4 linked regions of the Homo sapiens genome follow. The protein of the gene in region 3 purifies or fractionates together with the protein of the main gene of each other region. This does not show direct contact. Each region holds a gene or a part of one and is shown on either strand. Other genes may lie near its edges. The genes, in order: FGD6, CMAS, DBNL and ARPC1A.

Region 1 (8,824 bases), on a different chromosome or scaffold from region 3:
AGTGGCACTGTCTCGGCTCACTACAACCTCCACCTCCTTGGTTCAAGCAATTCTCCTGCCTCAGCCCCCTGAGTAGCTGGGATTACAGGCATGCACCACCACACCCGGCTAACTTTTGTATTTTTAGTAGAGACAGGGTTTCACCATGTTGGCCATGCTGGTCTCGAACTCCTGAGCTCAAATGATCCACCCGCCTTAGCCTCCCAAAGTGTTGGGATTACAGGCGTGAGCCACCACGCCTGGCCGATTTTACTTCTGTATACCTCAAAATGCCTCTGTAAATTAAACTACAGACTTTTTTTTTTAACACAGTCACAATCCCATTCTGATGAATTTTGTTTTATTATGATGGAGTTTTAATTATTTATTAAAGTCTTTCTTTCTCTCATTCCCTCTCCCTTCCTCTTTTCTGCTCTTTCTGTACTGTGTATGTATAGATTTATATATTTATTTTTATTTATAATACCTAACATGTGCCTCTCAGTTTTAAATATACAAAACAAAATTTAAACAGTGGTTTCATAAGTATGCTGATACCAGTAATGATTTGGAGTTAACATGGTTTTGGGAAAAAGGCATGGTTGGAAAAACAGAAAAAAAAAATACCCTTGTCTGACCAAGTTTGCCCCTATTTGGCCCATTCCCATCTAGCGCTGAATTAAAGATACCTCCTGATGAGCTGGGTAGGGACAGAGAACTTGGTGGGTGAAATAGGTAGAGAAGCCCTAACAAAAACTGCAGCCTTTACCGTGTGAACCTCATTGTCAACATCTGCTTTCTAATACAAAAAAATATGTTCCCTTCACCCCAGTGCCCTTCCTAGAAAATTTTAGTAATCCTTAGTAATCTAAAGATATTTAGTATTCTATGCTATAAATTGGAATTTGAAACTTGACTTATTGGAATGTTTTTAAATTCTAGGATGATGTCTTAAGAAACTCCCTGGCTATATAAATAATCATAATTATTAATTGTACAATTATCCTTTAAACCAAACCAAAAATATTTTCAAGTTTAGGAGAGTTCAAAAGCTATTTAATATAAAGCAGAACTTTTGGAAAGAAAAAATAAGCATTGTATTTGCTAAAATGCCATCACGGGTTCTCTGTTGTCTGTTCTGATGATCTGTTCACTAAACCTGCCTCAACTCTGAGGAGTTGCTACTTTTTTGACTGGTATTGTTGGAGGGTGGTGGGATCTGTTGCCATGGGAGAAAGAAAAGAAGAAAAAGGAAAAGAACAAAAACTGACATCTGGTTGATGAAACCTTTTGCCCCCAACAGTTCTGCCACAGAAAGGGATGAATGGCTAGAAGCGATTTCCAGGGCAATAGAAGAGTATGCCAAGAAAAGAATCACCTTCTGTCCTAGTAGGAGTCTTGATGAGGTATTGTTTTCTCCTTTTTTTTTTTTTTCCAGTGCATTTCAAAGTTTTTACCTTAAACATTTCACAGGGGTTTAAGAAAGCAACATGTGTTTCAGAAAATGATTGGACTGGACATCAGAGAGTTACTCTACAGATTAATGTCTCATTTCAGCGCTAAAAGTTTATCCTCCTATTGTTGTCTCACTGCAAGTCTGTGATAGCATATAGCATATTCATGTTTCTTCCCAGCTATAAAACTTCATTGTAGGAAATTTAGAAAATACGAAACAGTTTAAGGCAGAAACTAATCAGCTGCCATCCCACTACCACAGGCGTCTTTTTAAGTTAATTTTGTATTAGAAAATTTTTAGATTGTAGCTAAACTTAGTATTCCGAGCACGTGAAAAATATAATAGCCCATATTTCTTTTCTTTTTCTTTCTTTTTTTTTTTTGAGACAGAATTTCACTCTTATTGCCCAGGCTGGAGTGCAATGGCGCAAACTCAGCTCACTGCAACCTCTGCCTCCTGGGTTCAAGTGGTTCTCCTGCCTCAGCCTCCCTAGCAGCTGGGATTACAGGCATGCACCACCACGCCCAGCTAATTTTGTATTTTTAGTACAGATGGGGTTTCACCATGTTGGCCAAGCAGGTCTCAAACTCCTGACCTCTGGTTTTCCGCCTGCCTCGGCCTTCCAAAGTGCTGAGATTACAGGCATGAGCCACTGTGCCTGGCCAATAGCCCATATTTCTTTTTTTTTTTTGTTGAGATGGAGTATTGCTCTGTCGCCAGGCTGGAGTGCAGTGGTGCAATCTCGGCTCACTGCAACCTCTGCCTCCCAGATTTAAGTGATTCTCCTGCCTCAGCCTCCCAAGTAGCTGGGACTACAGGCACGTGCCACCATGACCAGCTAATTTTTGTATTTTTTTTTTTTTTTGAGACAGAGTTTTGCTCTTATTGCCCAGGCTAGAGTGCAATGGCACAATCTCGGCTCACCACAACCTCCGCCTCCCAGGTTCAAGCAATTCTCCTGCTTCAGTCTCCTGAGTAGCTGGGATTACAGGCATGCGCCACCATGCTAATTGTCGTTATTTTTAGTAGAGACAGGGTTTCTCCATGTTGGTCAGGCTGGTCTTGAACTCCCAATCTTAGGTGATCCACCCGCCTCGGCCTCCCAAAGTGCTGGTATTACAGGCGTGAGCCACCGCGCCTGGCAATTTTTGTATTTTTAGTAGAGACAGGTTTTCACCATGTTGACCAGGATGGTCTTCATCTCCTGACCTTGTGATCTGCCCACCTTGGCCTCTCAAAGTGCTGGGACTACAGGCGTGAGCCACCATGCCCAGCCAATGGCCCATATTTTATCCCCATCTTTTTTGTTTGTTTGTTTTTTGAGACGGAGTCCCACTCTGTTGCCCAGGCTGGAGTGCAGTGGGACAATCTCAGCTCATTGCAACCTCCACCTCCCAGGTTCAAGTAATTCTCCTGCCTCAGCCTCCTGAGTAGCTGGGATCACAGGCACCCGCCACCACACCCGGCTAATTTTTGTATTTTTAGTAGAAACAGGGTTTCACTGTGTTGGCCAGGCTGGTCGCAAACTCCGTACCTCATGTGATCCACTCGACTCGGCCTCCCAAAATGCTGGGATTACAGGCGTGAGCTGCTGTGCCTGACCCTCATCCCCATCTTGGTAGTGTGAGATGCCACTGCCGAATAAAAAGGCAGGCAGTGTGCATGGAGATAATCAGAAGTTGTTCTTCTTCCACAGGCAGACTCAGAAAATAAAGAAGAAGTTAGTCCTCTTGGATCGAAGGCTCCCATCTGGATTCCTGATACCAGAGCCACAATGTGTATGATCTGCACAAGCGAATTCACTCTCACCTGGAGACGACACCACTGCCGGGCCTGTGGAAAGGTTGGCGATGATAACACCCATCTCCATTGTGGTCTTTACTGTCTCCAGGCTGTACATAGTGAGGAAGCATATTTCCCCTCATAAACCATTATAGTTCAAGAATAACAATAACTATTATTATTATTATGTTAATGGTAGCAAACATGAATGGTGTTTTCTCTAAATATTTAGGGGGCAGGGGCAATCTTCTTAGTGAACTTCCACCCTCCTACTTCAGAGTTACATTAGAACATCAGTAATAACTGATTCAAAAACAAAATCTAACAAATCCACAATTAAACAGGCCCTCACATTTACAGCTATTATTTAAACTGCATCTCTCTAGTACTAAGTATCCATAGTATTCAGTACGGGGAATGTTCAGTGTTGAAGTTATCTCTAGTGATGTTTCTAAGCCTTCATGATCTCATTAGTAAAATGGGTGTAGAAACAGTGACATCAGAGAGTCACTCTAAAAATTAAATGAGGTTGTATTTAGAGAGCATTTAGTATGGAGCCCAAAAACTTGGTAGAGTTGCAGAGACGTGGTCGTTGCTGCAGCAGTGATTATGATGATGACAGTGCTGGTGATCAGTATACCTCACAGGCCTTTTTGCATGCCAGGTACGGTTCTAAGCATTTTGCATATATTAACTGCTTTACTTTATTATTTTATGTAGTCAGCCCTCTGTAAGTAATCATCTGTGGCCCCTTCATCTTTCAAGTGTGGTACTATGCATTAGTTCACTATATGCCTGAACTCCAGAGTTATTATTGAGACGAAGTGAGACTCAGTGACTCTGAAACTGTTTTGAAAAGTGGATAGCACTGTAAATTGTAACATACTTTATGGTGTAGAAACACAAGTTATTCTAATGAAATTAATGACATAATTCCAATGTGTTTTCAGATTGTATGCCAAGCTTGTTCGTCTAATAAGTATGGCTTAGATTACCTGAAAAATCAACCAGCAAGAGTATGTGAACATTGTTTCCAAGAACTGCAGAAATTAGGTAATATATAAGTAAGGATTTAACCAAAAATTCCTTTATTCCCCAGATGCTTTCAAACAACCTTCTGAGAGAAACACCTTCGGTACATTAGCAATATGATTGTTGATACTTATCTCCAAATTTGTAGTAAGCTTTCTTAATTCATATTTTGTTGTAATTCTGGGAGAGGTTGGGCTGAAATTTGGTTTCAGTCTGTGTAAAAGGTTTTGCTAAGAAAACTGTAGAAATGTAATTACAGGGTAAAACACTTAAAACAGTAAAAGGGAACTTTAACTTTCAAGTAATTTTGAAGTCTATAGTTTCACATGATAGTGTGCTCATTACAAATCATTTTATCTATATGTAAAGTAATTCTCTTTACTTAGGTGGCACTTCGTTAGCTTAATTCTAGTCAGTTAATCTGATTTAGTGAGATGTTAATGTACATCTGAATGTGCAGCTTTTTGACCGAACACAAAAATGATACTTCCTATTTCCCTGCTCATTATTTGCAGGTATCCTCCAGTAAAATGAATGCAGCTTAGCAGGACTGCTCAGGTCTATGTTTTGGGAAGAGATTTTTAGTTAAATTCCTGAAACCTGTAGGATCTAAATTTTATTTATATATATTTTTTGAGATGGGGTCTTGCACTGTTGCCCAAGCTGGAGTGCAGTGACACAATATGCAACCTCTGCCTCTCGGGTTCAAGCGATTCTCGTACCTCAGCCTCCTGAGTAGCTGGGATTACGGGCACGCGTGACCACGCCAGGCTAATTTTTGTATTTTAGTAGAGACGCGGGGCGGTCTCACCATGTTGGCCAAGCTGGTCTCGAACCCCTGACCTCAAATGATCCACCCGCCTCAGCCTCCCAAAGTGCTGGGATTACAGGCATAAGGCACCACGCCTGGCCAGGATCTAAATTTTTGAAAGTCTGTTCTTCATTTCCCTGAAGGATAGCTTTTCATTAGCAAGGAGGAATTTCTAAGTGGATGACATGGTATTTCAGAGTCCACATATTTCTAGATGAATAATTTATTATTATTTGTGTACATTTTCCAAGAAGACCCATCCATCTCTTCCTTTATGTTCCTCTCTTTAGTCTGGGTATATGGTATAAGCTGCAAACATTCAAAATTCGTCTTTGAATTCTCCTTCCTCATCACCTATACCCATTTGGTCAGTAACTCTTGTCAATTTTATCATCAAAAATCTTTGTCTTGATTTCTCCATCCCAGCCCTAATAAGGCCTTCGTTATCTCTCATCTAGACAACTATAATAATTTCCTAACAAGTTTTCTTGCTGTTAGTCCTTTCTCCTTAGTACTGCCAGATATAATCTATTTTTCCAAATTTAATCTGCTCATGTCACTCCCCAGCCTAAAACATATAAACAACAGTCCAGTTTGCTTCAAACCAGCCCCTTTTTTTTAATCTGGCCTCATTATTCTCCAGATAGATGATTTAATTTCATACCTCTCTGCCTTTGCTCATGCTGACCTCTTAGCGCACAGTGTTCCTCCTGCTTGTTTTAACCTGGCAAATTCCTACTTACTCCATCATGGCCAGCTTTTATCTTATTATCTTCTCAGCTTTCCCTGAACCCTCTGCAATCAGAATTCATTACTTCTTCATCCGTGTCCGATAGCCCCCTTTTTTAAGCTGCTTTGTTCATTGTAGCTGGTCTAGTATCTAGACACTTAACAATACCAGGGTTCTTTGGGGTTTACGGCAGTAGGGAAGGTTTTTTGGATTTTTTTTAAGTTGGTAGTATAGTCACGTGTTTCATAATTCTAAAGGCACACAAGAGTAATCCTTTCACATAAAGTTCAAAAAGTATAAAACCATAGATAGTAGAAAGTCTTCCTGCCACTCAACTCCCAGCCATCCATTGTCCTTTTCCAGGAGTTATCAATGTTGTTTCTTAGTGTCCTTCCATGGATATTTTATGCAACAGTGTTTATGGATTTGAATGAAATTGAATTGCAAAATGCTGAGCATTGCCTACATAAGCATGCCTGATTTGTTCTAGATCACCAGCACTCCCCTAGGATTGGATCTCCTGGAAATCACAAATCTCCTTCAAGTGCCTTATCATCAGTCTTACATAGCATTCCATCAGGGAGGAAACAGAAAAAAATCCCAGCTGCTCTCAAAGAAGTAAGTGTTTCCATTAAATTTGCAATGTGATAGAGGCTGAATTATTCATATGCATATAATACACCGTTTTTCTTTCATAAAGGAAGATGTCATTTCCCACAACTATTAAGTCATGAATTTTAATACTGATGATGGATGTGGCTGATGCCTCACAATCTTGCTTGGTCTCCCGTCTGACCTAAGTCATTTAGAAAATGGCTATTGAAAGGTTTAGAGAACATTTAATAGCAGTGATAGAAAGTAAAGATAAGTTGGACACACATGAATTTTTTAAAATGACTTTGAGCAAGATCCTTGCCAGAGGGAAGAAGTCCACAGGATATTTTGGGCATTTTGTTAGCATTTAGTGATCTGCACGGTTTATTTGTAGGCATTGGTTGGTTATGCACAGCTGATATCACTGATAGTAGGTTGTCTTTCCTTTAAACTTCCTTTAAAAGAAAACTTTAAATAGTGATAATAGCCTGTATGCTTAGACCTGCTAATGGTGTAATCCACAGACTTTGTTGATATCCTATCCCATTTCCTCAAATTTAGATGTCAAAGAACAAACAGCATTGCCATTTTGGCTACTCCGTTATGATCAGTTTATTAGTGAGGTCCGCCTGTGCTAGTTTTGTGGCCAGCAGAGTAGTTTTTAATTTGGTTCTCTTGCTTTTTTACTGAGGAGGTGTTCTAGCATACATAGTGGAAGGAAAGAACTCTAAAAATTTGATCAAGATCATGTTTCTTATGTAAAGTTACGAGTATATTCCCAGTTGAAACACAGTGTTTTAGAGGTTCATGGAAATTACAGCACGTATCCATACTTCGTTTCTTGTTATGTCTGAATAATATTTCATTGTTTGTGTATACCACAGTTTATCCACCCATCTCTTGTTGAATATTGGGTTGTTTCCACCTTTTGGCTATTACGAATTATGCTGACAGAAATATTCATGTGCAAATTTCTGTGTGGACATATGTTTTCATTTATCTTGGGTTTATACCCAGAAGTAGAATTGCTTGCTCATATGGTAATTCTATGTTTAACTTTTTGAGGAACTGGGAAGTTGTGTTCTTATTCTAGTAATGTTTAAAATATTTTTAGAAACTCCTCTTTTTAGAATTACATTTAGAGCCTCAGTACTCTCAGTAATGGCAGACTACAGCTTTTGAGTTGGAGTTGGATTATTTTTTTTTAATTTTCATTGCTTCTGGGGTACCTGTGGGTTTTGGTTACATGGATGAGTTGTATAATGGTAAAGTCTAAGATTTTAGTGCACCCATCACCTGAGCAGTATACAGTGTACCCAAAATGTAGTTTTATAGTCCCTCACCCCCACAACCCTGATTTATTTTGTAAATAATCAAATCATTGGAAGACATGTTTTGTGGATCAGTTAGGTGATTAAGTTGGTGAACACCAGTTTTATCTTTGAAAATATAGGTCTAGTCATGGCTATTCAGTATTATGGTTGATCTTCTTGTGTGGCTACTAAACTGGTCCTAAATTGGTATAAAGGAGAAATGTAATATATTTTGAGCAACATTAATAACAACTTAGATAAGAATATAGTAGGATTCCAATGTAACTATATTTTAAGCAAAATCTCATTTGAATGTTAAACATTCTAGTTGGATTTTTTTCCTCTTTTTTTTCACTGAGATAGGAAACAATTCTAGTTTTTTAAAAAATTACTTGGTAGTCTTTATAAGGATGTATTTATATAAACCTACTGTTGCTTAACAAATATTTCTAATTTAATGTTAGATCTTAAATTTCCCACTAAACAATATATAATTATTTTCATGAAATTTATAAGAAATTAATATAATTAAAGATACACTTTAAAAATTCACAGAGCGCATGTGTATTAGTTTTCCATTTCTGCATAATAAATTACCACAAACTTAGCAGCTTAAAACAACATACATTTATTATCTCCAGAGTCCAGGCATGGGTTAGCTGGGACTCTGCAGGGCTATAATCAAAGTTTTGGCAAGTACTGAGTTCTCATCTAGAGGCTCATCTGGGAATTCATTTCCTTGTACTTGCAAGACTGGGGGCCTTGCCTTCTTACTAGCTTTTGGCTGGAGGTCCTCAGCTCCTTGCCATGTGGACCTCTCAACATTGCTACTTTGTTCAAAGCCAGCAAGGAAGAAAGTTTCTAGAGTGTCTCCTAACAAGACAGGGCCATATATAAGGTAGCTTGATCATGGGAGTGACATCCTATCACCCTCACCAAATTCTTAGTTAGAAGCAAGTCGTAGGTCCTGTCCACACTCAGGGGGAGGAGAATGTACAGCAGTGTGACTCTCTACAGCAAGGGTCATGGGAAGCCACCTTAAGCGTGTGCCTGCCATACCATTACTAAGGTAGATCCTAAACATTTTGTTATTTATCTACTCCTACATTTTTAAGAACACAGCTTTT
Region 2 (8,824 bases), on a different chromosome or scaffold from region 3:
ATAAAAGTATTGATTTTTTTAAGAAATATATTTTTATACACTTATGTCACCCATATAAAACATTGGTGAGTGAGTTATTATTTTTTTTTTTTGTAGACATGGGGCCTCACTATGTTTCACAGGCTGGTCTAAAACTCCTGAGCTCCAGGGATCTGCCTGCCTCCGCTTCCCAAAGTGGTGGGATTGTAGGCATGAGCCATCATGCCTGGCCTGCTGTGAGTTTTAAATAAAAATGTAAATGCTCTTCTCCATTTTCTTACCTCTCCTTTTAAAGTGTGTGTGTGTGTGTTTTTTTTTTAATGTCATATAAGTAATACGTATTCGTGGTAGAAATATTTTTTTAAAAAATAGAAGCAAAAAAGTCACAATCATCCTAATTATCACTATTTGTAGATAATCACTACATTTTGACACATATAATTCTAGAGTTTTACCTATATAAATGATACACTTATTACTATCTGTAGGCACTATGTTAAGCATTTTATATTATCTTTGTTTTTCTTTCTAATGGCTTTATAAAATTTGGTTTGTGTTTATATTCTAAGTAGAAAACTAAGGTATACAGAAGCTTGCTTAACATCCCAAAGAAAGATAATAAGTATAGTTGGAATTTGTTATACATTCCACTAAAATTTTCTTCTAATAAAAATTGGATCTGTCTTTAACAAACATTCTGCAGCATTTATGTCCATTAAATCTTCATGTGTGGTTTAAGGGTTATTCCTGAAGTCTCTAGATCACATGCTCCCAAAGTTTTTCCTGTGCTTCTTATTTTGAGGCTCATATTACCCTTGTAAATACTGCTTTCATACATGATTTATAGTTATTATGCATCTTAATAACTTATCAATTTTAAAATGTTGACATCATCAGACTGTAAGCTCTGCAAGCAGAAAGCCTACAGTTCCCACAACCAGTTCCATGCTGCGTATCATCATAGGTACCTGGTAAGTAAGTGTATTGCTTAATATCCAAGTGAAAAACATTGTTATATTTGATCATGCAAATAAATACAGGTCACAGCACTGTTTGTAATGGTTGCATAGTAATCCTTTTTAGGGATATTCTATTTTTCACAGGACATTTAAGTGGGTTCTTTTAACTTCACTATTGGCCCATTTGTCTCATTTCTTTCCTGGAATTGGAATTTGGAGGAAAAAGTATGTACATTCAATTAGCAGCAAAAACTATTCAGAGTGTAATTCATATGTACTAGAAATTCTGCTAAGTGCTTTACTCATATTATTTTATTAATCCCTTCCAGAGCCCTACGGTAATAGGTACTCTCGATATCTCCAGTTTACAGATGAGGAAACAACATTCATCTTATCACAACTGGCTAATCAGTGGTACAGTCTGACTTCACAGCTTGTGCTAATAATCATTCTACATTTGATACCTATTATCAAACTAACCTCCAGAAAGACTGTCCCAGTTTAACAGTTTGATCAGCAGTGTTTGTTAAAAGAGTTCCTATTTCCCTACAATCATACCCATTTGGAGGATGTGCTTTGTCATTTCTTTAAAAATAAGTAAATAATTAATTCCTGGTCCATTTTACTATGGGTGAATAAAAAGATACCAACCAAGATATGCCACTTCTTTCCAGCACAGGCCCATTTCTTTTCTCCATTCATCTACAACTGCTAGCTTGTCTGATACACTGACTTCCATTTTGCAATCCAGTTTTAAAGAAGACAGCGTCTGCTTTGAACAGGCCCTTTCTGAGATTAGCCTCACCTTAAAAAAAAAAAAAAAAAGGATTGGAGGAAGAAGGGAAAAATTAAAAAGTGAAGAAAACAGAAATCTTTCATAATAATTGACCTTGTAGACAGTCCAAATCACAAACGAGTCATCTTTTGACTTTCTGAAGGTCCAAGTAAGAAAACTGACTGTCGAATTAAAATCATGATGCTTTAAAACAAAGCTCATTTTATTTCTCATAGCCCAATAAAGGTGAGACACAGTATTTTATTTTCTACAATAGAAAGGATTCTATCTACAGGTAAAAATTACAACATATATTGTCTGATACTACTCTAAGATTCTCCTATAATTCAATTTATCCAGAGGAAAGTCTATAACCTCTCTCTTGTGCTGCTTAGCAATACATATTTAGGATTTCTGGTAAATTATAATTATCTTAGCTAGCTTTCATTTAAAAAAATACACTTAAACGTTAAGTTATTTTGAATCAAAAATGTCATTCATAAGAATAAGCTAGATTTTAAAAATCCACAGGATATCGTCCTTTTCTAAAATGGTACACCTATTATCTAGGGAATCTTTCTTGCTGCAAGATCCTTTGGGAAACATTAGATAGCTCCCATTTAAAAGTAGTTATGTTTATATTTACTGAATAAACAAGAAATATTATTTGCTGATTAACAAATTCCTAATTCTACTCATCTAAAACTAAATAGTATAATAATTTTCTAGGCGTATGAAGGCCAAATTTCAGATATTTTAAGAGTTAATACTAAAAATTTAAATCTCTTAATTCCTTGCATGTTCTTTGACCCTGAATCAAAATATTATAAAATACTGCTATATTCAGGGAGCACATACCTCAATACCACTTTTCTTTAATAAACTTATCCCAATAGCATCTTTTACATCATAAGATATTATTTCTTTTTGGTCTCCTGATACATAAATGTGGCCATTGGTGAGACATCCATCAATATTGCAAACCAAAAGTTTTATTTCCTTAAGCTTCTCTTTGCCAAAATAGCCATATCTAAAAGAAACCAAAATAGACCTTTGAGTACAAGTGCAGTACTAATCACTCCCTCTCATCTGGCTAAACCAATACATGAAATGTCACCCTCCATTCAATTATTCAAACATTACTCTCCAAATTTACTTCACATATATATTTTAACATATAGTACAGTAAGTAAAAGTAGTGTGGTCTAGCCAGATAATGTTTCTCACTTTATTGAAGCCATGTAAACACATATTTTACATGTCTTCCTCACATGAACAAAGTAATTACAAAGATCCTAAGATGTCTGAAGTATCAGAAATCAGTATCTAGAAATATAATTATTAAGATTTAGTACAAAGGTTATAAAGGTTTATTTGTTTTTACCTTAATACTCTTTGCTCTGCAATAGGCCAATCAATATCCACATCTATATCCACACTATGTTCAGCTCGCATTTCGTAGTATGCCATTTTTCCACCCTAAAGGTAGTATAAATGTCATGAATACTGTTTTTAATATTCATTCACATATATCAAAACTTTATTATAATACAGAACAATGAATTCATTTCTACAGTACTGAGAAAAATGAATAACCCAGTAAAAATCAGTCACATAAAAATGATTTTTAAATTTATTTTTACTTTTTTATTTTTTCGAGTCAGGGTTTCACTCTGCCTCCCAGGCTGGAGTGCAATGGTGCAATCATAGCTCATTATAACCTTGAAATCTTAGGCTCAAGCAATCCTCCCACCTCAGCCTCCTAAGGATCTGGTACTACAGGTATACAGCACCATGTCCGGCTAAATTTTTAAAAAGTTTTTTGTAGATATAAGATCTTGCTATGTTGCCAAGGCTGGTCTTGGAAACCTGGCCTCAAGCTATCCTCTTGAGGCCTCAAGCTGGCCTCTCAAAGTGCTGGGATGACATGCTTCAGCCACCACGCCCAGCTTTTTTTTTTTTTTTTTTTTTTTTTTTAAGGAGAAAGCTCACACAAAAGAAATAACCTTAACATTTTTCAAATTCTATCTAAACAGTTCAAGTTCCCTATTTAAGAAAATTTCTATTTTAATATTGAAAAAAGCAGAAATATTACATCCTCCAGGTTTCTGACCACAAGGGATTTTGTGGAAATCCCTTAATCATATCCTCCTTTTTTTCAAGAAGTCTCTCCTGTCATCATCCAAAAGCAGTATTAAGGTTTTTGGAACTTCTGTTCTAATTTGCAACTAACAGGCAACACAGGGGAGGAAAAATAACTGTAGCATCTGTTGTACAGAGTTTTCTTAGATCTCTGAGCTACTGATGAAAATGACTAATAGTCATCCAAGTCACATGCAGGCAAAGGCAAGGGCAGTCTCTTGATTCTAGGCAAGGGTCAGCAAGAGAAAGGGTCTTTCTTCTGATAGTAATTATTTGAATGACAAGATCAATTACTGGACAATTTCAATTTCATTTTTTTTTTCAGAATTGTCAGTCTCTTCATAAACCTTGTTTTAATGAGAAACATTTTTCTCCACACTTTAGGAATGGGTTAATCATGGTCCTCCTTAGAAAAAAGCTTAAAAATGGTAGTATCTATGTGTGTCAAATCCAATTTTTCTGAACACTTAAATTTAACTAAACAGCTAGTCTATAGTTTGCCTACACATTGACCAGAAGATTTGTAAAAATGTTTTTCTCTCTTTTGCTCAGAATAATAGTCCCATTAGAATTTTTATTACACAATGGAGAGGTTTCTCTCTCTCTCTTTAAAACCGCTATTTCTTGAGTAACATAAGAACCTGAATCCAAATCCTGACAGTACCATTTATTAGCTGTTTTTGCCTTGAGTCAATTACTTCATATTTCAGTGAGGCAGTTTTCCTCCTCTGTAAAACTGGGTAGAAATGTCCACTTCATTCATTCGCTATGCAGATTACATAAGATAACATATGCAAAGTGTTTCACCTACTCCGAAGTACACAGTAAATAATAAATAATAATGATAACTAAAATTAACAAGTTAAGAAATATATGATGCAACCATGTTGCAGGCTCTAAAATGAGAGAGACATTAAATCTGTTATTTGAAAATGAGAGTCAGGACAGATAAAATGATACATATTCAAGCTTACATAGTAAGAGGCAGTTGACTTAAAGTATAATAAAAAAAAAAAAAAATATATATATATATATATATAAAAAGATTCCGGGTTTCCTGACACCCAGGTTGTAACTCTTTTCACCTCTATGAAATTATTTGTCTTTTTAAAGCAATAGAAGTTATTCAACCCTACAGCCACAATATAACTATAACACAAACATGGATTACGTAGTTTTGAGTGGAATAATATGAGTACCAGGACATGTGTAGACACCCAGTACTTGATTCATTTTTTTATCGTTGTAGCAGAATTCCTTGCATATTTACTGAATGGATTCCAAAGATCACTTTGGGGTAAACCTGCAGGATAAATGCCTCAGATAGCAAATGTTGTTGGCTATTACCTTTCCTCTATAGGTTGATACTTTTCTTTATCATAAAGAAATTGTACCATACTTCTTCCCTAGAACTCAAAGTATGCCTACAAAAGCGCTTAAAAGGGTTATGCAAAATGAAGGTACAAACCTGCAAGTAACCCATCTCTATCAAATGTCTTTTAGCAAAATAAAATGAGCCATTTTCATATAATTCTCCATCCCAGTCTTGTCGACGAGGCCGTTTAGCTGGATTTAAATTCAGAGGTTCGGTCACTTCACGAACTAAAAGCAAAAAGTTAGAGTAAGTCCACGTTGCCCTGAATATAGAAAGTGTTAATTTAGTAACTAAAAAAGTTAATAAAAATGAACTCAGAATGCAGAGCATTTCTTTATCTAGATAAAGAACTTTTCTTTTTTTTTTTTTGAGACAGAGTCTCGCTCTGTCACCCAGGCTGGAGTGCAATGGTGCGATCTTGGCTCACTGCAACCTCCGCCTCCTGGGTTCAAGCGATTCTCCTGCCTCAGCCTCCCAAGTAGCTGGGACTACAGGCATGCACCACCACACCTGGCTAATTTTTGTATTTTTAGTGGAGATGGGGTTTCACCATGTTGTCCGGGCTGGTCTCGAACTCCTGACCTCGTGATCCGCCCACCTCGGCCTCCCAAAGTGCTGGAATTACAGGCATGAGGCACTGCACCCGGCCTGATAAAGAACTTTTTTTAGGCTGAATGTGGTGATTCACGCCTGTAATCCCAGCACTGTGGAGGCCAAGGCGGGCGGATCACTTGAGGTCAGGAGTTCGAGAGCAGCCCAGCCAACATAGTGAAACGCCATCTCCACTAAAAACACAAATTTAGCCGGGCATGGTGGTGGGTACCTGTAATCCCAGCTACTTGGGAGGCTGAGGCAGGAGAATCGCTTGAACCCGGGGGGGGGAGATTGCAGTGAGCCGAGATTGCGCCACTGTACTCCATCCAGCCTGGGCAACAGAGTGAGACTCTGTCTCAAAAAAAAAAAAAAGAACTTTTTTAAAGGAATAAAATCTGTAATAATTCTGATGATTTATCTTTGCTTTCCAATAGCTACTAGAAAACTAAAGTATTTTATAATGAAATGTGGAACAATTAAGGTATTCATACAAATATTATGCTTTGGGAGGACATCAAGACAACCTTAAAGTAGCTTTAAAAGAACTGAATTTGTCATAAAATACCTATATTAATATTTGGGCCCTTTAATCTAGTTCTCATTGTTTGCATATACAGAAATAAGTTTTATTTATCTAATGTGGTTGAGAACTTGTTTTTATACAATTATTGCTGAAAAGTAAAGATTTCTCCATTAAATTATTGAAGATTTTATATTGATGAAAATGTTTATGTAACATATTATACATTCTTACCATTAGTTAAAAATATACTAAACATAATAATAAATTATGTTTATGAGTATACCTGATAATAAAGGCTCAGTAATGTCAACATTAATGAATAGAACATAATGTAATCAATGAAGACTTTGGTACTGTCATGTAGAGATTCCTTTGCCTTTCCACTGAGTTTTCCTCAAATCTGTGTGTGTGTGTGTGTGTGTGTGTGTGTGTGTGTATGTGTGTGTGTGTAATAGCTGGTTACTCTCCAGAATCTTTCTTCACTTTTTGCTGCCATTTCTGTGTTTATACAGGCTTCTAGGAATAACCTCTACTTACTTGTTTAACGAAATCATCCCCTGTTCAATTCCACCCCAGTGTTTGAAATAACCCAGGAAAAAACCTTAGCAAATACAAATTAAATAGCTAGAGATAACATAGCTTTATGGGCACTGGCTACAGAGTAGTGACCAGAACTCTCTCTATTCTCAAAAAGTATACAATCTAGGGGTAGAGACAGGTAATAAACCAACTAGATAATTCAAGTGGTACTTTGAAGAAAAGAGAGGGACAAATCTTTCCTAGTATCGGTGGCTGCTTTCTCCCTGGTCATATCTGCTGAGTATGAGGAGAAGGTACAAGAAAGATCAAGCTTTGCATAATCAGAGGGACTCTGCTGAGGTAGGCAAAAACTAGAAGGGCTTTCAATGACCTTGTGGACTTGAGTTACAGATTGTCATCTGTAGGAACCACAAACATATAGCTCGTTTTTCCCCACCTAATGCTTCCCCCTTACAAGACTTTGGCTGAGTGTACTGGGTGGGAAGCTGGGAATGGGCTGGAAAGCAGGGAGACATCATAATAGTATTGTGGTCATCAGATCCCTTAGTCTTGTTAGCAAGAGTAGGGTATGGGTGTGAGTGTCAGTAACACATACAAGATGTATCTCCTAATAAGACACCTATACTAAGAGGTGAGATGAAATTAAAGTTTCAACCCAGCCCAACTCCTAATTGAATCAAAGTGATCAGCCCCTTATCCTATCTTCCTGATAGAAGAAAAGGTGTACCCTCTCTGGAGGAAAATATGTACTCAAGTGTCTATGCCAGATATACAATTAAACATGAGCCAAATGAAGAGGCAGAAATAGGTGACTCACAATCAAGAAAGAAGCAGATTACAGAACTGTAAGTGACTAGATGTTGAAATTTGCAATCAAGGACTTTCAAATAGCTATCAAAAATATGTTAAATTAGAGGAAATGACCTTTTTTTAAAATGGATAAAAAAATGGAAAATTTCAACAGAAAATGGAATCCCTACGAAACAACTAAAATGTACATTACTGAATGGAAAAACACAGTGTTTATAATAATTCTCTGGATAAGATTTATAGCACACTGGACATGGCAGGCAAAATGCCTAGTAAACCCTAGGGAACCCTTCTTATATATGGAGTTAGGAATTTGGGGAAGAACTTCAAAATGTCATTCTTGAAATCCTTCAGAACACTTTGGTGGATGCTTTCTATCTCTATATGACTTGTATGGAGTTCATCAAACATGTCTAGAACAAACATAAAAGTATTTGATCTAGAAAAACAGCATATCTGCCTCAAAAGGCAAACAGAAATAAGAGGATTAGAATGTCCCTTTGTAAAGAGTAAAGCAAAGAATTAATTTGGTCTAGCTGTGTTGGCTCGATAACAGATTTACAGCTGATTGTAAATGTCATTACCTACTAAAGTAATGAGTCAAATACTCTCTTTTACAGCTCCCCTTTTACTCTCCTCATGCCTAAAGGATATTTATATACAAAAAAATTGATTCTCAATAAAATCAGCTAAAATAAAGACTGAAAAGAGATTACCTCCTTTCTGAATTTCACTCCATCGAAACTGATGGCGTCTCACAACAGAGAAAACAGAATCATATCCTTCTTCTCGAATCATTTCTGCAACTTTTTGAAGATCAGTAGGATGTAAACATGGAGAAGTAGCTTGAATATTTCCTACAATGTCAACCTCTTAAAAAGACAAGAGAAATGAAAAGGATATTTAAAAAAAAAGTTCCTTGCAAGCAAGTAATATTAAGGTTTGGAATTCAAATGTTAAAACAAGTCTTATAAGATAATAAAGGAAGTAGAAAAGTACATAAAGGTTTGAATAAACTATTAATCAAATTCATACCATTATGATAATTAAGAAATTCTATGATGGCATCTAGTGAGGTAGAGCTGTCTTTTGAAACTTCAGAACTTCTTCGATGAACTTGTGCACCA
Region 3 (9,662 bases):
AAAGGCAAAACCCAGTCCAGTGTGTGTCATCTCCCCAGGCTCTAAAGCACAGGCCTGCTGAGGCAGGCCAGACAGAAGCTCCAGGGATAAACAGTCGGACAGGAACCAAATCAGCTTCAACTTGGCTTCCCCAGGGCTTTGCCAGTGCCACTGGGCAGAGATACTTATGCCTCAGAAAAATGGAAGAAATTAGACCCAGGCCCAGTGGATCTGGTTGGTAGGGAGGAGACAGGCCTCCGGGAAAAGGCACTCCTTACCAGGAGGGGAGACAGAATACAGGAGAGAAACACTGAATGAGAAACACTCAGAGAAAAGGAACTAGAGAAAAGAACACAGAAAAACAAGAGAAAGATTTGGGAGGTGGCACACTGCCAGCATGAGCTGGGGGGAACTCCCTGGAGGAAAGAAGCCCATTCCTCTTGATGGCCACAAAGCCCTGGCTCCCAGAAGATAGCAAGCTGGCACAAGCAGCAGGTAACAGAAGATGGCAGCTCAACCCAGCTCTTGCAAGAAGGGACTCAACCAGCTGCGATGGCTCATGCCGGTAATCCCAGCACTTTGGGAGGCCAAGGCGGGTGGATCACCTGAGGTTAGGAGTTTGAGACCAGCCTGGCCAACATGGGAAACCCCGTCTCTACTAAAAATACAAAATTAGCTGGGTGTGGTGGTGGGTGCCTGTAATCCCAGCTACTTGGGACGCTGAGGCAGGAAAATCACTTGAACCTGGGAGGCAGAGGTTGCAGTGAGCCAAGATCGTGCCACTTCACTCCAGCCTGGGCGACAGAGCAAGACTCTTGTCTCAAAAAAAAAAAAAAAAAAAAAAAGGGACTCAGCAGCTAATATAATAAGAGCCAAGCTCAATGCCTGCCACCTATCCCTCTGACTTGATCCCTCTCTACCCCAGGCCACCTTTAAGAATGTTCCCAGCGCAGAGGCTCATTCCCAGTTCAGAGGCCTTTTGAAAGAAGGGCGAAGGAAGTTTCAAATCAACATGAAAAAACATGGTGCACTGGCCTCTGAACAGCAAGGCATATGGAGTGTCAAGCATCTTATAATTCAATAGTGCCTTTGAAAATAAGTACTGAGAGCCTACTGCTTATTAGTTACAGGAATGCAGCTATGAACAATCCCTAAAAGGTCCTGCCCATGGAACTTACTTTCTAACGGAAGAAAAAACACACACCTAACACTAACGTACTATTAGAGAGTGAAGCAGGTGCTGAAGGTGACACATGAACCAGGTGAGAACAAACCATGCCAAGATACGGAGTAAGCAGGGGCGGGAGACAGATCCAAGATGGAGAGCTGATGTCATGGTTGCTCCCCACTCTATCTGCCCTCCCCAATGCCAGCACTGTGTGTGTGAAACCTCTTATGACCCACCAAACTAGAGACCACCTCTTCTTCCTCTGATATCTCTACCACTTTTTCTGTATGACTTGGTCCATCCTTCATCTAAGCATCTGCCACATGTAACAACCGTGCCTCAAGCACCGAGGACAGAGACAGAGCCCACCCCACCCCTTCTAGTAAGAGATAAAGGTGACAAGAAAATCCATAAGGATTTCCAGCATATTTTGTGTCTGGCATGTGTCTGAAGGAAGTCAAACAGAAAGATGGGAAAAAGTGCCTACAAACAAGGAGCTAGGAATCAAGGAAGGCCTCTCTGAGAAGGCAACCTCGGGGCCAAGAAGTGAAGGCTGGGGAGCCACCTGGGACGATGTGGAAAAAGTGTGCTCCATGCAGAGGAAGCAGCAGAGCAAGGACTCTGAAGAGGAACCAGCTTGTAAGTTTGAGGAAGAGAAAGACGGCCAGAGTGGTGACAAACAGGTGTGGCCACAGTGTGGTAAATGAAAGGGGTGGTAGGTTCTGGGTCATGCAGGGCATCAGCAGGGCAAGGAGTCTAGGCTTTATTCAACATGCAACAGGAAGCCACTGTAGAGTTACAGACACGGAAGTGACATGGTCCAGATATTTTTCCGCAGTGTGCAGGAATCTGCCACATAGTATCTGCTGAGTAACTACCTTAATGGCTGTGACGATGAGGGTGGAGGTCAGTGGGTTATGCTGCTGAGTGACACAACCTGTAGTGCTGCAGGAGCCTGGAGGTAGGGAGGGAGCATAGCATGGCTGTCTGGGCAGATGAGTCCAGTGAGATGGGTGGGTTCTGACTTCATGAGGGGAAAGAGGAGGCTCCACAACCCTCATGAGGGACAGAGAGTAGATGGGGTGGGTAAGCACCGGGCCAGGAGTGGTAGCAGACAGCTCTCGTAAGCAGCCCAAGGAAAGGCTAGGAACATAGGAGGTCTGAAGAGGGAAGCCCAAACTGCCAGGTGGGCTGGGAGGCATCATCCCAAACCAGTGATGGTTCCTGAGAAGACTGATGATGAAGAGAGACCTGGAAGGGAGATAGATGAGGAGTGCCAGGAAGCTCCTAGGTAAGTCTGCCAGGGTAAACAGAGTGATCAAGAGCATGTTAAGAAGCAAAATCTTTAATTTGGCAGGGCTGAAGAGGGGCAAAGATTCTTCTGGGTTCTAAAGCCAAGTGGTATGATGTGGACATGAAAATGGGGCACTCATTGCAGAGATACTTTTGACTGGGTTTGAAGTAACAGGAGAGGTCTAAGAGAAACACGAACAGGAATAGGAGAGAGGCAAAACAGAGGGCTGACATCTAGAAACTCTCCTGAGAAAAATAACACTGACTGACGTGGGTAAATCTGAGGGATTATAAAGCAGGCAGAAAACCCCACCAAGGAAATGACGAGATATCCTTCTTTAGATGCCTCCAAAACAGAAGATGTGCTGTTTGGCATAAGTGCCATCCAGGGCACTCAGACCTGACAGGAGAGTCTACAGAGACCCCATAGAACCAAGCAACTGGTGTTCTAAAGCTCTTCCCCTAATGGCCCAGGGCTGAGGAAAAAGCAAAGCCATAACATCCTCAGGGTCACAATAGTACACTGCATAAAAGCCGCTCTGTGCTGGGCACTACGGAGAGCAGAGGAGATGAGAAAGCACTTACACAAGTGGAGATGGCCCCCACACAAGGGGAAGACAGTTGGGAGGGCCTCAGTGCTGACCACAGTGTGGCCCCACCACGACTCAGACTCCAAGGCCCAGTTTCTATTCCCCAAAGTTGGTCACCTTAGCCCACCATACTCAGCATATTTCTCAGAACTGGGATTTCTCAAAACTGGTCAGTAAAAACAATTTAAGCAAAGAGGAAAGTGAGGATATCTTGGGTGGTAGAGGGAAAATGGGACCTTTTCCCAAATAGATAGCGAGCATCCTACTTTCGTACATCTTCCCATGGCTCAGGCACAAGAAAGAGTACACTTTTTGGAGAAACGAAAGTTCTGAAGTCCACGTTCACAGACAGCCAAGAACCCAGATCCCTGAGCTCCTCGTCTGAAGCCCCCAGGGCAGGGCTCACATTCACAGCCCGGCTGCCAGGCCGCTCTCAAATGCCCATCCCCGAACACAGCGTTTGCAAAAAAACCGGGCGTGGCTTCCGCCTTCTCAGAGAGGGCTGTGCAGGAACCCCTTCTCCAGGGAAGTCCCAGGACTGGAAAGAAGAACCTGGCGAAGCTAGCAAGCACGACCAGGCCGAGGATCCAACATGGAAGCCCGCGAAGCCCACAGTGGGTGGCGAGCGACAGGGGGAGGGGCGGGGACTCACTGGGTCCCCCCAAGCCGGGTTTAACCTGTCCACGATCGGCGGGGCAAGGGGTCACGAGGGTGAGACAGCACTCCTGCTGCGGTGTGGAGGGGCAGACAGGTAAGCCCCAGGCCACCTGCCTGGGCACCGCTCCGCGCTCGCGCTCCCGCTCCCCCCGAGTCCCCCGCTCGCCCCAGACAGACCCACCCCTGAGGCAGCCCCTGGCCCGACCCTGGCCCGTCTCGCCGCCCACCAGTCGGTCGGGGACTTCTCGGTGACCACCCGCACGTAGGCCTCTTGCAGCGCTGGCCCGTTCCGGCTCAGGTTCGCCGCCATGGCCCGCCCCGCAGTCTCCGCGCCGCTGCTGTAGCTTCCGGGCCGGGCCGGGCCGCCCCTTTGACAGCCGACAAGCCTCGCCTCCGACAACCGGAAACCCCGCCCCACGGCAGGAAGCGGAAATGGTAGGGGCCAGCCGCACCCGCGGGTCCTAGCGAGCTGTCCGGCCAGCTGGTCTAGCATGCAGGTCCCGCGAATGCCGAAGGACAAGCGGGAGAAGGGAGGACCCGGCCTTCTGTTTGTCCTCAGGGAGGGATCCTGGGGCGCAGACTAGCCCGTCTTCTGGTCCCACCCAAACGGCAGCTCGACTTGGAAGCCTGGCCGCAGGGACCCAGTCCAGCCCCCGCTAGCTGCTCTCACAGCACCGTGCTTATTCTTTTCTAAATCTTGTTATGTCGATGCGCTTATTTGAACGATCTTGGGTTCACTGCAGTCTCCCTCCAGACGAGGTCTTCAGCCTGTTTGTGGACCCTCAACAGTTTGATCTGTGAAAGAAACATGCATAAATGTATGAATACACGAATAAATGAGTGCTAAGTGACGATCACACCGCTACAAACCTAACTGAAAGTGACTGTGCTTTCTCACTCTCACCTGAGTTTTTCCCTCTGCAGTTTGGTCGAGGCCAGGATAGTGGAGGCATGAAGAGAACCTGTCTTGTGCTTCACCTGCACATCTGGCTGGTCGCCCCTAGAAGGTGTCAGTAATTCCTCAATCTGCTCCCCTCCTCCTGGGAGCACCAGTTTTTCCATCCACAAATCTGCATACACTTGACTGAACTAGCTTCTTATCTGTATGATAGAGAAACATGCCAAAGCGCAAGGCAGCTCACGGCTTATTTCCTCCCATGGAGAATAACTCCCCTGCCTCCTTAAAATATAAATCCTGCCGGGCACGGTGGCTCACGCCTGTAATCCCAGCACTTTGGGAGGCCGAGGTGGACGAATCAAGGGGTCACGAGATCGACACCATCCTGGCTAATACGATGAAACCCCGTCTCTACTAAAACAAAAAATTAGCCAGGCGTGGCGGCGTGCGCCTGTAGTCCCAGCTACTCGGGAGGCTGAGGCAGGAGAATGGCGTGAACCAGGGAGGCAGAGCTTGCACTGAGCCGACATAGCGCCACTGCACTCCAGCCTGGGCTACAGGGCGGGACTCTGTCTCAAAAAAAGTATAGTATATATATACATATATACACACACATAGTATATATATGTGTATATATATACACACACACATAGTGTATATGTATATATACTATGTGTGTATATATGTATACATATATGTATATATATGCATATGTATAGGTATACATATATGTATATATGCATAGGTATAGGTATACATATATGTATATATATGCATAGATATAGGTATACATATATGTATATATATGCATAGGTATAGGTATACATATATGTATATATATGCATAGGTATAGGTATACATATATATGTATATATATGCATAGGTATAGGTATACATATATGTATATATATGCATAGGTATAGGTATACATATATGTATATATATGCATAGGTATAGGTATACATATATGTATATATATGCATAGGTATAGGTATACATATATGTATATATGCATATGTATATATGCATATGTATATATGTGCATATGTATATGTATATGTGCATATGTATATATGCATATGTATATGTATATATGCATATGTATATATATGCATATGTATATGTATACATATATTATATATGCATATGTATATGTATATATGCACATGTATATATATACACATATGTATATATATGCATATGTGTATATATATACATATAGTATATATATGTATATATCCACAATCCCTTAAGTCCAGATGTGCTTTGGAATTCAATCTAAGATTTCAGAAAAGTTATACCATGTATGTCCTGGGTAAGCCCTTATCACAGGATCTGGACAGGAACTGGTAATCAGACATGTTCATGCTTTTGCTGTGATATGTGTGAATAATCAGCTAAGTGTGTGATATGTGTGAATAATCAGCTAAGTGGAATATAAGACGACTCTAAATATCCTCATGACAATTAAGGTCAGTTTTTGCTACCAAATGAACTACCAAAATCTTAAGGTGTTTGAGTCTGGATGGTGCAGATAAGGGCTTGTGAACCTAATTTGGACAAAAACATGGTTCATTTGTTATGCCCATTTTTCTTTCTGTTCACATGATTGTTGCTTGTTGTCTTGTTTGTTTTGTGCTGCTATAACAAAGTACCACAGACTATGTAATTTACATAGAACAGAAATTTATTTTCTCACAGTTCTGGAGGCTGGGAAGTCCAAGGTCATGGCACTAGTATCTGATGAGGGGCTTCTTGCTGCATCATAACATGGTGAAAGGCAAAGAGGATGAGAGAAAGACAAAAAGGGGCCAGACTCATTCTTTTTTTTTTTTTTTTTTTTGAGATGGAATCTCACTCTGTAGCCAGGCTGGAGTGCAGTGACCACGAACTCGGCTCACTGAAACCTCTGCCTCCCAAGTTCAAGTAATTCTCCTGCCTCAGCCTCCTGAGTAGCTGGGACTACAGGCACGTGCCACCATGCCCAGATAATTTTTGTATTTTTAGTAGAGATAGGGTTTCACCATGTTGGCCAGGATGGTCTCGATCTCTTGACCTCGTGATCTGCCCACCTTGGCCTCCCAAAGTACTGGGATTACAGGTGTGAGCCACCCTGCCCGGCCCCAAACTCAGTCTTTTCTAATGAACCTGAGGCAGGAGAATAGGGGCTGGAAGCAGGCAACAGAACGCCAATGCACACTAACCTCCTAGAACCAAATCAAAAGGAAAACGCCTACTTATGACCAAGTAACAAAAGACCAACACCCTGTTCCGGAGCAACTCTCTGGCCTCAAAGTCCATGGAGTCTTTTCTGAAGGTGAGGTTGCATGCTATATTGTCCTCATCTTGCAAATGACAACACTGAGCTTCAGAGAGAGCGACAGAGGGGGCTGGGACTTCGACTCCAGTGTTCTATCTCCATATTGAGAGCCCTTTAAGGTTAAGAATGTGGCTGGGCATAGTGGCTCATGCCTGTAATTCCAGCACTTTGGGAGGCTGAGGCGGGCGGATCACTTAAGGTCAGGAGTTCGAGACCAGCCTGGCCAACATGGCGAAACCCCATCTCTACTAAAAATACAAAAATTAGCCTGGCATGGTGGTGGGCACCTGTGATCCCAGCTACTGGGGAGGCTGAGGCAGGAGACTCACTTGAACCAGAAGCCAGAGATTGTAGTGAGCTCACGCCACTGCACTCTAGCCTGGGCCCCGTGCTAGACTCCGTGCCCCGCACCCCCCCCCCCCAAAAGAATGTGTGTGTGATTAAAATTTAAGTTAGAGACAGTCTCACTATGTTGCCCAGGCTGGTCTCAAACTCCTGGCCTCAAGTGATCCTCCTGCCTCGGCCTCCCAAAGTGCTAGGATTACAAGGGCTAAGAATTCTAGTCATTCATTCACTCACTCATTCATTCATTCATGAATAAACAGTTTGCCCTGCTTGTGTACCTGTCCCCCTCCTGGGCGGATACGGCAGGCAAACGGTGCAAGGGCGGCTGCCGGGAGAAGGTGGGCAGCTGGAGTGGGACTGGGGGAGACAGGATCAATGTGACCTGCGGTGGTCCCCAGGTGGCCGGGATGCAGTACCTGCACGGCGTCCTGGGCCCCATCATCAACAAGGTGTTTGAGGAGAAGTACGTGGAGCTGGACCCCAGCAAAGTGGAAGTTAAGGATGTAGGGTGAGGCCGGGGGTAACTCCGGGGGGGTGCGGGGCGCAGCGGCAGCGGGTTGGGATCAGGCCCTGTCAGCATGTGTGTTTGTGCTTCTGCCCACCCGTGTATTGTCCCCTGTGTCCGTGTCCCGGCTGCTGTGAGAGCCACTGTTCCTGTCGTGGCCCTGGCGCTGACCGTGACCTCCTCTGCCAACCCGCCCCGTTCCACGCAGGTGTTCCGGGCTGCACCGCCCGCAGACCGAGGCCGAGGTGCTGGAGCAGAGCGCGCAGACGCTGCGCGCCCACCTGGGGGCCCTGCTGAGCGCGCTCAGCCGCTCGGTTCCCGCGTGCCCCGCCGTGGTGCGCGCCACCTTCCGCCAGCTCTTCCGGCGCGTGCGCGAGCGCTTCCCCGGCGCCCAGCACGAGGTGCGCCCTCCACCCGCTGGGCTAGGCTGGGCCGGGTTGGACTGGGCTGGGGCGAGGGGCGGGCGAAGAGCGGTGGGGAACCAGGGAGCGCTGGGGAGGACCAGGGAGGCTGTGTCCCGGCGAGGGTCAGGGACGGAGCCTAAGGGGAGGGGGCTGCCAGGAGCCCTGGTCTGGGGGACTCCAGCCCGCGCTCTTCCGCACCCCTCCAGAATGTACCGTTCATCGCCGTCACCAGCTTCCTGTGCCTGCGCTTCTTCTCTCCCGCCATCATGTCGCCCAAGCTCTTCCACCTGCGGGAGCGCCACGCGGACGCCCGCACCAGCCGCACCCTGCTCCTGTTGGCCAAGGTGCGGGCCTTGCGGCCACGGGCGGGATGCACAGCTGGGTGTCCTACCGGGGCCCTGGCCTGGACTGCAGAGTGTTCCCTACCGGCTCCGGCGAGGCCACTGGCACGCCCACGTAGGCACTGCACTTCACAGTTTGCAAAGCCTTCCTGTGGCCACCTTGTCCGAGTTCCATCTCATGGATAAGGGAACAGGCCTGCGAGGGGTCGGGGGTTGCCAAGGCCGCCCATCCTGTCGGTGGTGAATCGCGGGACCTTCCAACCCAGGTCTGCTTACTCTCAGGCTGCACCTATGTGCCCGGCACCGGGGTGGGGTATCCAGTGCAGCAGCGTCAGTTAAACCTACAGAGGAAGGCCCAAGTGGTCTCAGTTATCATAAGGCATCAAACTTCATGATCCTCTCCTCCCTGATCCCTAGTGGGGCTGGAGGGGGCCCGTGGGCATGGCCTCTGTCGCCTCTGCCTCCATCGCTACAGCTGAGTAGCAAAGACTTGGGGAGGGGGGGTGGGAGGGGGTGCAGTGGCTAGGCCCCTAACCTAGCAGAACCTGGTCCTTCCTGCTGTCACCTCCAGGCAGTCCAGAACGTGGGCAACATGGACACGCCGGCTTCCAGGGCCAAGGAGGCTTGGATGGAGCCGCTGCAGCCCACCGTGCGCCAGGGCGTGGCGCAGCTGAAGGACTTCATCACCAAGCTCGTGGACATCGAGGAGAAGGACGGTGAGCGCCGCCCTGCACAGACCCGCCCACAGCCTACTGCTGACGTTTGCTCCGCCCTTGAGCCCCACGGCCCCACCCACCGCTGTTTGTTCCTCTCGTGGCCCCACCCACCGCCTGCTGTTGACATTTGCCAGGCCCCCAGGCCATAGACCCACGCACCACTGTTTGTGCTTCCTGTGACCCTGCCCACTGCCTGCTGTTGACGTTTGCCCCACCCCTAGACCCATGGCCTCACCTCCCATCATCTGTGCCTGTTGACATTTGCTCCATCCTTGAGCTCCATAGCCCCGCCGCCACCTGCTACTGACGCGTGTCCCGCCTCCAAGCCCATGGCCCTGCCTTCCTCAGTCCACCTGTCACCCCGCTCACCACCAGCTGTTGATGTTTGCTCCGCCCTTGAGCCCCATGACTACGTCCACTGCCTGCTGTTCAGATTTGCTCAGCCC
Region 4 (4,689 bases), about 55 Mb from region 3:
ATGGCTTGGTGCCCCCTGGCAGGAATGAGTGTGTTCTCACTCTATGACCTGGTTGTTTCAAGGAGCCTGGTCCTCCCCACTCTCTCTTGCATCCTCTCCCGCCATGGGACACGCCTGCTTCCCCTTCGCCTTCTGCCATGAGTAAAACCTTCCTGAGGCTTCCCCAAAAGCAGACGCAGGCACCATGCTTCTTGTCCAACCGGCAGAACCGTGTGCCAAATAAATCTTTTTTCTTAAACAAATTACCCAGCCTCAGGTATTCCTTTATTGCAACACAAAACAGACCGACACAACCTACTTTGCAGAAGTATTGCAATGTTCAGAAACGGTTCTCTCTCACCCCTCACTAAATGGTGCTTTTTGGTTCAAGGTTGTATAGAATGGTACAATTTAAGAAACCAAGGATCTAAGATTTTGCCTAAAAAAAACTGAATCGAATGAAGAATTCGCTCATATTTTTCTACTAAAAATTGAAATACTACAAGGAAACAAAACCAAAACCACATTCAGTTCTTTTATTTAATTTTCTAGTGGACAATTTACATATCTCCCTCACCCTGTCTTTTAAGTTAGTGTGACAATTTTCCATAATAAACTACTTAAAGAGAAGCTTTGGTCAAGAATGGAATGAAATCGCAAAAAAACAAACAAAAAAATTACTGCCTTAAAAAAACCAACACTTTCACCAATTTTATATTCAAACAAAACCACACGGCATTGGCGTGATATGTGTTTTCAGTGTTTCCTTGGGGCTGGCTTCCTCGCCATCGTGCCACGGCACAGCTGCGGTCGGCCACAGTTTGTCATGCTGGATGGCGGAGGCTCACTCAGCTTCACATTATCCGGAGGCCCTGGATGGAAGACTCGAGGGTCTTGGAAAAGGTGGGAAGAGCACTGATGTCACTGAGGAGTGTCTACCCCGAGGTAGGTATGACACCACTCCCTCTTCCTCAGGGAAGGTTCTGCCTGTCCCCACCCTGAACCTGGCCCTGCCCCACCTGAAACAGGATCTCCCAGGACTCACCCCGCAGAGACACTCCAGGCCGGGGCTCCCCCTGCTGGCTCCTCCAGGCCAGGTGTGCCTTTTCCCCACTGCCACACACACAGGCTCTGGGCACACTCCTCACTCCTCTTTTTTTTTTTTTTTAAAGATAGGGTCTTGCTCTGTTGCCCCAGGCTGGAGTGCAGTGGTGTGACCACAGCTCACTGCAGCCTCCAACTCCTGGGCTCAAGTGATCCTCCTGCCTCAGCTTCTCAAGTAGCTGCAACTAAAGGCATGCGTCACTGCACCTGGTTTTTAAAAATATATATATGTATATTTTTAAATAGAGACAGGATCTCACTGTGTTGCCCAGGCTGGTCTCGAACTCCTGTGCTCAAGACAGGAAAGCAGTGAGGAGAAACGAGCCTCAGCTTCCCAAAGTGCTGGGATTACAGGAGTGGGTCAGTGCGCCTGGCTGCACCTGGCTTTTTTATAGAGATGGGGTCACGCTATGTTGCCCAAACTGGTCTCAAAACTCCTGGCCTCAAGCGATTCTCCCACCTCGGCCTCCCAAAGTGCTGGGAAGACAGGCATGAGCCACTGCGCCTGGCTACCTAGAGCTCTTTTTTCTAGCTCCATCTGTGCTTCCGGAGGACCACAGCACGGGCAGCGCCTCAGAGGCAGTGTGCGCTCTCTGAAGCCCAGGGCTGCCCTGGGTGTGCTGCACTTGCAGCCGAGGATGCTCGCCTGTGTCTTCTCAACTCACAGTCCCTCCCTCCAAAACCCATCGCAACTCAGGATGCCGCTCAGGTGCAACCTGTTCCCTGCAGTCCACGCATCCCCCTAGATTCCTCTGTGTGAAAACAGAGGCACTGGCTTCTCTTCTGAGCTCTGCCGAATCCCCTACCCAGCCCCCGTATCCACCTCTCTCTTCTACCAGACAGGCTCATTCAGATTGGATATTCTCAGTGCTCAGCATCATGCATGGCACCCAGGAGATATGTACTAAATGTTTATTAAATTAATTAGTGTCAGCTATAAATATATATCTATATAGTTAAACCTGGGCTGGTGTCCAATAGGGCCTGTTTCCAAAACAGCACTCCATTTTTCCTCAATGAATAAATGGACATCTAGAAGTAAAAATTCCAGTTCACTGAGAATGTGCCGTTCTTCTGCGGATGACTTTTAGGTTTTAAAGAGATCTCTGGCTGGGCGCAGTGGCTCACGCCTGTAATCCTGGCACTTGGGGAGGCTGAGGCGGGTGGATCACCTGAGGTTGGGAGTTCGAGACCAGCATGTCCAACGTGGAGAAACCCCATCTCTACTAAAAACACAAAATTAGCTGGGCGTGGTGGCACATGTCTGTAATCCCAGCTACTTGGGAGGCTGAGGCAGGAGAATCGCTTGAACCCCAGAGGCGGAGGTTGTGGTGAGCCGAGATTCTGCCATTGCACTCCAGCCTGGGCAACAAGAGCGAAACTCTGTCTCAAAAAAAAAAAAAAAAAAAAAGAGAGAGATCTCCAAGGCTGGCATGGTGGCTCACGCCTGTAATCCCACCACTTTGGGAGGCCAAGGTGGGCAGATCACATGAGGCCAGGAGTTCAAGACCAGCTTGGCCAACATGGTGAAACCCCGTCTGTACTAAAAATACAAAACATAGCCGGGTGTTGTAGTGTGCTCCTGTAATCCCAACTACTTGGGAGACTGAGGCAGGAGAATCGCTCCAACCCGGGAGGCGGAGGTTGCAGTGAGCCAATATTGCACCGCTGCACTGCAGCCTGGGTGACAGAACAAGACTCCATCTCAAAAAGAAAGAAAAAAAAATGAGAGATTTCCAGTTTAATGTCTTACATTAGGACATTAAACTGTATACTAGATTTAACATTTTGTTTCAAGAAATGAGAAACATTCTTCTCATAAGAGTTTTGTAAAAATATTCACGGAGCATGGTGGTGCATGCCTGCTGTCCCAGCAGCTTGGGAGGCTGAGGTGGGAGGGCTGCTGGAGGCAAGGAGTTGGTGGCTGCAGTGAGCCATGATTGTGCCACTTACTCCAACCTGGGTGACAGAGAAGGAGCCTATCTCTTAAAAAAAAAAAAAAAAGTTTTAACACAAACAAAATTTGTTCTGTTAGGTAGAAAATACCTTGAAATCCCAAATTGTCATGGCTCCATCGATGCCAGTAGTGCAAAATTTGCGACAATCTTGCTTGTCCACCTCATAAATAGAGACTTGACTGAAAAAAAGCAAAGCAAAAGAGATCGTAAGGTATGTAGTGGAAGTGAACACAAACATTCCTGACTAATAGTGTAAGGGCAGCTTAAGGAAATGAATTATCTTCTTCTTTATTTTTTAAATAGAGCTGGGATGCGGGTCTCATTATGTTGCCCAAGCTGGTCTTGAACTCCTGGGCTCAAGTGATCCTCCTGCCTCAGTCTCCCAAAATGCTGGGATTACAGGCATAAGCCACCACGCTCCACCAGGAAATGAATTATCTTTTAACTCCTGATTATGAACTTATCCATGAACATTAGGCTGCAACAATCTGGCTCAGAAAATACCCCAAAGCATATTATTACCAGATGTCCAGGAAAGACAAAACTGGCAAGGGGAGAAGTTAAGAACTTGCCTTGGTTAGCGTGACCTGGGGAAGCAGGAATGACCCAGCCCACACAGCACTCAAATGCTGGGAGCAGGTTGTGGGTAGGACCACAGCCATGGCGAAAACAGTATTTTTGTTTGTTTTTAAATAAACCAGAGGCATGATGAAGCATGACTGAATTCCATAGCTCCAAACAAAACCTCTCAAATCAGCCTCCAAGACAGCCAGTGCAGATAAGCCAACAGCCCTCCTTGAGTCTGAAGTGAATCATCATAAATGTTAGCAGCAGACACACCACTAGATTCCGACCAAGCTAAGCAGGGGAACAGATAAATGAAACAACTTGTCTTAGCCTAATTATCTGGAAGCTTTCAAGACAATCATCCATTGCTCAGACAATATTTTTCTTTCTCCTTTGAGATGTCTAGAACTTACCCGCCTCTTCCCCGACGCTGGGAAGGGGATGGCAAACTATGGCACACACTGCCTATGCCCGTACAGCCTGTGAGCTTAAATAAAAAAAAAAAACAACAAAGGCCAGGTGCAGTGGCTCACGCCTGTAATCCCAGCACTCTGGGAGGCCGAGGTGGGCAGATCACGAGGTCAGGAGATCGAGACCATCCTGACTAACACAGTGAAACTCTGTCTCTACTAAAAGATACAAAAAAAAAAAAAAAATTAGCCAGGCATGGTGGCGGGCGCCTGTAGTCCCAGCTACTTGGGAGGCTGAGGCAGGAGAAGGGCGTGAACCCAGGAGGCAGAGCTTGCAGTAAGCCAAGATCGTGCCACTGCACTCCAGCCTGGGTGACAGAGACTCCATCTCAAAAAAAAAAAAAAAAAGGGGGGCGGGGTTTTACATTTTTATTTTATTTATTTATTTATTGAGATGGAGTCTCACTCTGTCACTCAGGCTGGAGTGCAGTGGTGCGATCTCGGCTCACTGCAACCTCTACCTCCCAGGTTCAAGCGATTCTCCTGCCTCAGACTCCCGAGTAGCTGGGATTACAAGCACCTGCCACCAGGCTGGCGAATTTTTGTATTTTTAATAGAGACGGGGTTTTGCCATGTTGGTCAGGCTGGTCTTGACCACCTGACCTCAAGTG

What was found.
Region 1: the proteins of DBNL (region 3) and FGD6 purify together in Homo sapiens (affinity purification with mass spectrometry; 4 studies listed by BioGRID and IntAct, with this or other methods). This does not show direct contact.
Region 2: the proteins of DBNL (region 3) and CMAS purify together in Homo sapiens (affinity purification with mass spectrometry; 3 studies listed by BioGRID and IntAct, with this or other methods). This does not show direct contact.
Region 4: the proteins of DBNL (region 3) and ARPC1A purify together in Homo sapiens (co-immunoprecipitation; 2 studies listed by BioGRID and IntAct, with this or other methods). This does not show direct contact.

The regions. Positions count from the first base shown.
Region 1 is NC_000012.12:95,087,153-95,095,976, reverse strand, and holds part of FGD6 (FYVE, RhoGEF and PH domain-containing protein 6), read left to right. Parts: intron 1-1,282; coding exon 1,283-1,385; intron 1,386-3,131; coding exon 3,132-3,278; intron 3,279-4,167; coding exon 4,168-4,270; intron 4,271-6,280; coding exon 6,281-6,408; intron 6,409-8,824. UniProt on the Homo sapiens protein: May activate CDC42, a member of the Ras-like family of Rho- and Rac proteins, by exchanging bound GDP for free GTP. May play a role in regulating the actin cytoskeleton and cell shape.
Region 2 is NC_000012.12:22,055,200-22,064,023, reverse strand, and holds part of CMAS (N-acylneuraminate cytidylyltransferase), read right to left. Parts: coding exon 8,733-8,824; intron 8,570-8,732; coding exon 8,414-8,569; intron 5,458-8,413; coding exon 5,324-5,457; intron 3,193-5,323; coding exon 3,098-3,192; intron 2,744-3,097; coding exon 2,572-2,743; intron 1,744-2,571; coding exon 1,590-1,743; intron 252-1,589; exon of another isoform or gene 97-251; intron 1-96. UniProt on the Homo sapiens protein: Catalyzes the activation of N-acetylneuraminic acid (NeuNAc) to cytidine 5'-monophosphate N-acetylneuraminic acid (CMP-NeuNAc), a substrate required for the addition of sialic acid.
Region 3 is NC_000007.14:44,039,073-44,048,734, reverse strand, and holds the start of DBNL (drebrin-like protein), read right to left. Parts: upstream 4,034-9,662; 5' UTR 3,998-4,033; coding exon 3,915-3,997; intron 1-3,914. UniProt on the Homo sapiens protein: Adapter protein that binds F-actin and DNM1, and thereby plays a role in receptor-mediated endocytosis.
Region 4 is NC_000007.14:99,362,074-99,366,762, reverse strand, and holds the end of ARPC1A (actin-related protein 2/3 complex subunit 1A), read right to left. Parts: intron 3,221-4,689; coding exon 3,130-3,220; intron 873-3,129; coding exon 834-872; 3' UTR 501-833; downstream 1-500. UniProt on the Homo sapiens protein: Probably functions as a component of the Arp2/3 complex which is involved in regulation of actin polymerization and together with an activating nucleation-promoting factor (NPF) mediates the formation of branched actin networks.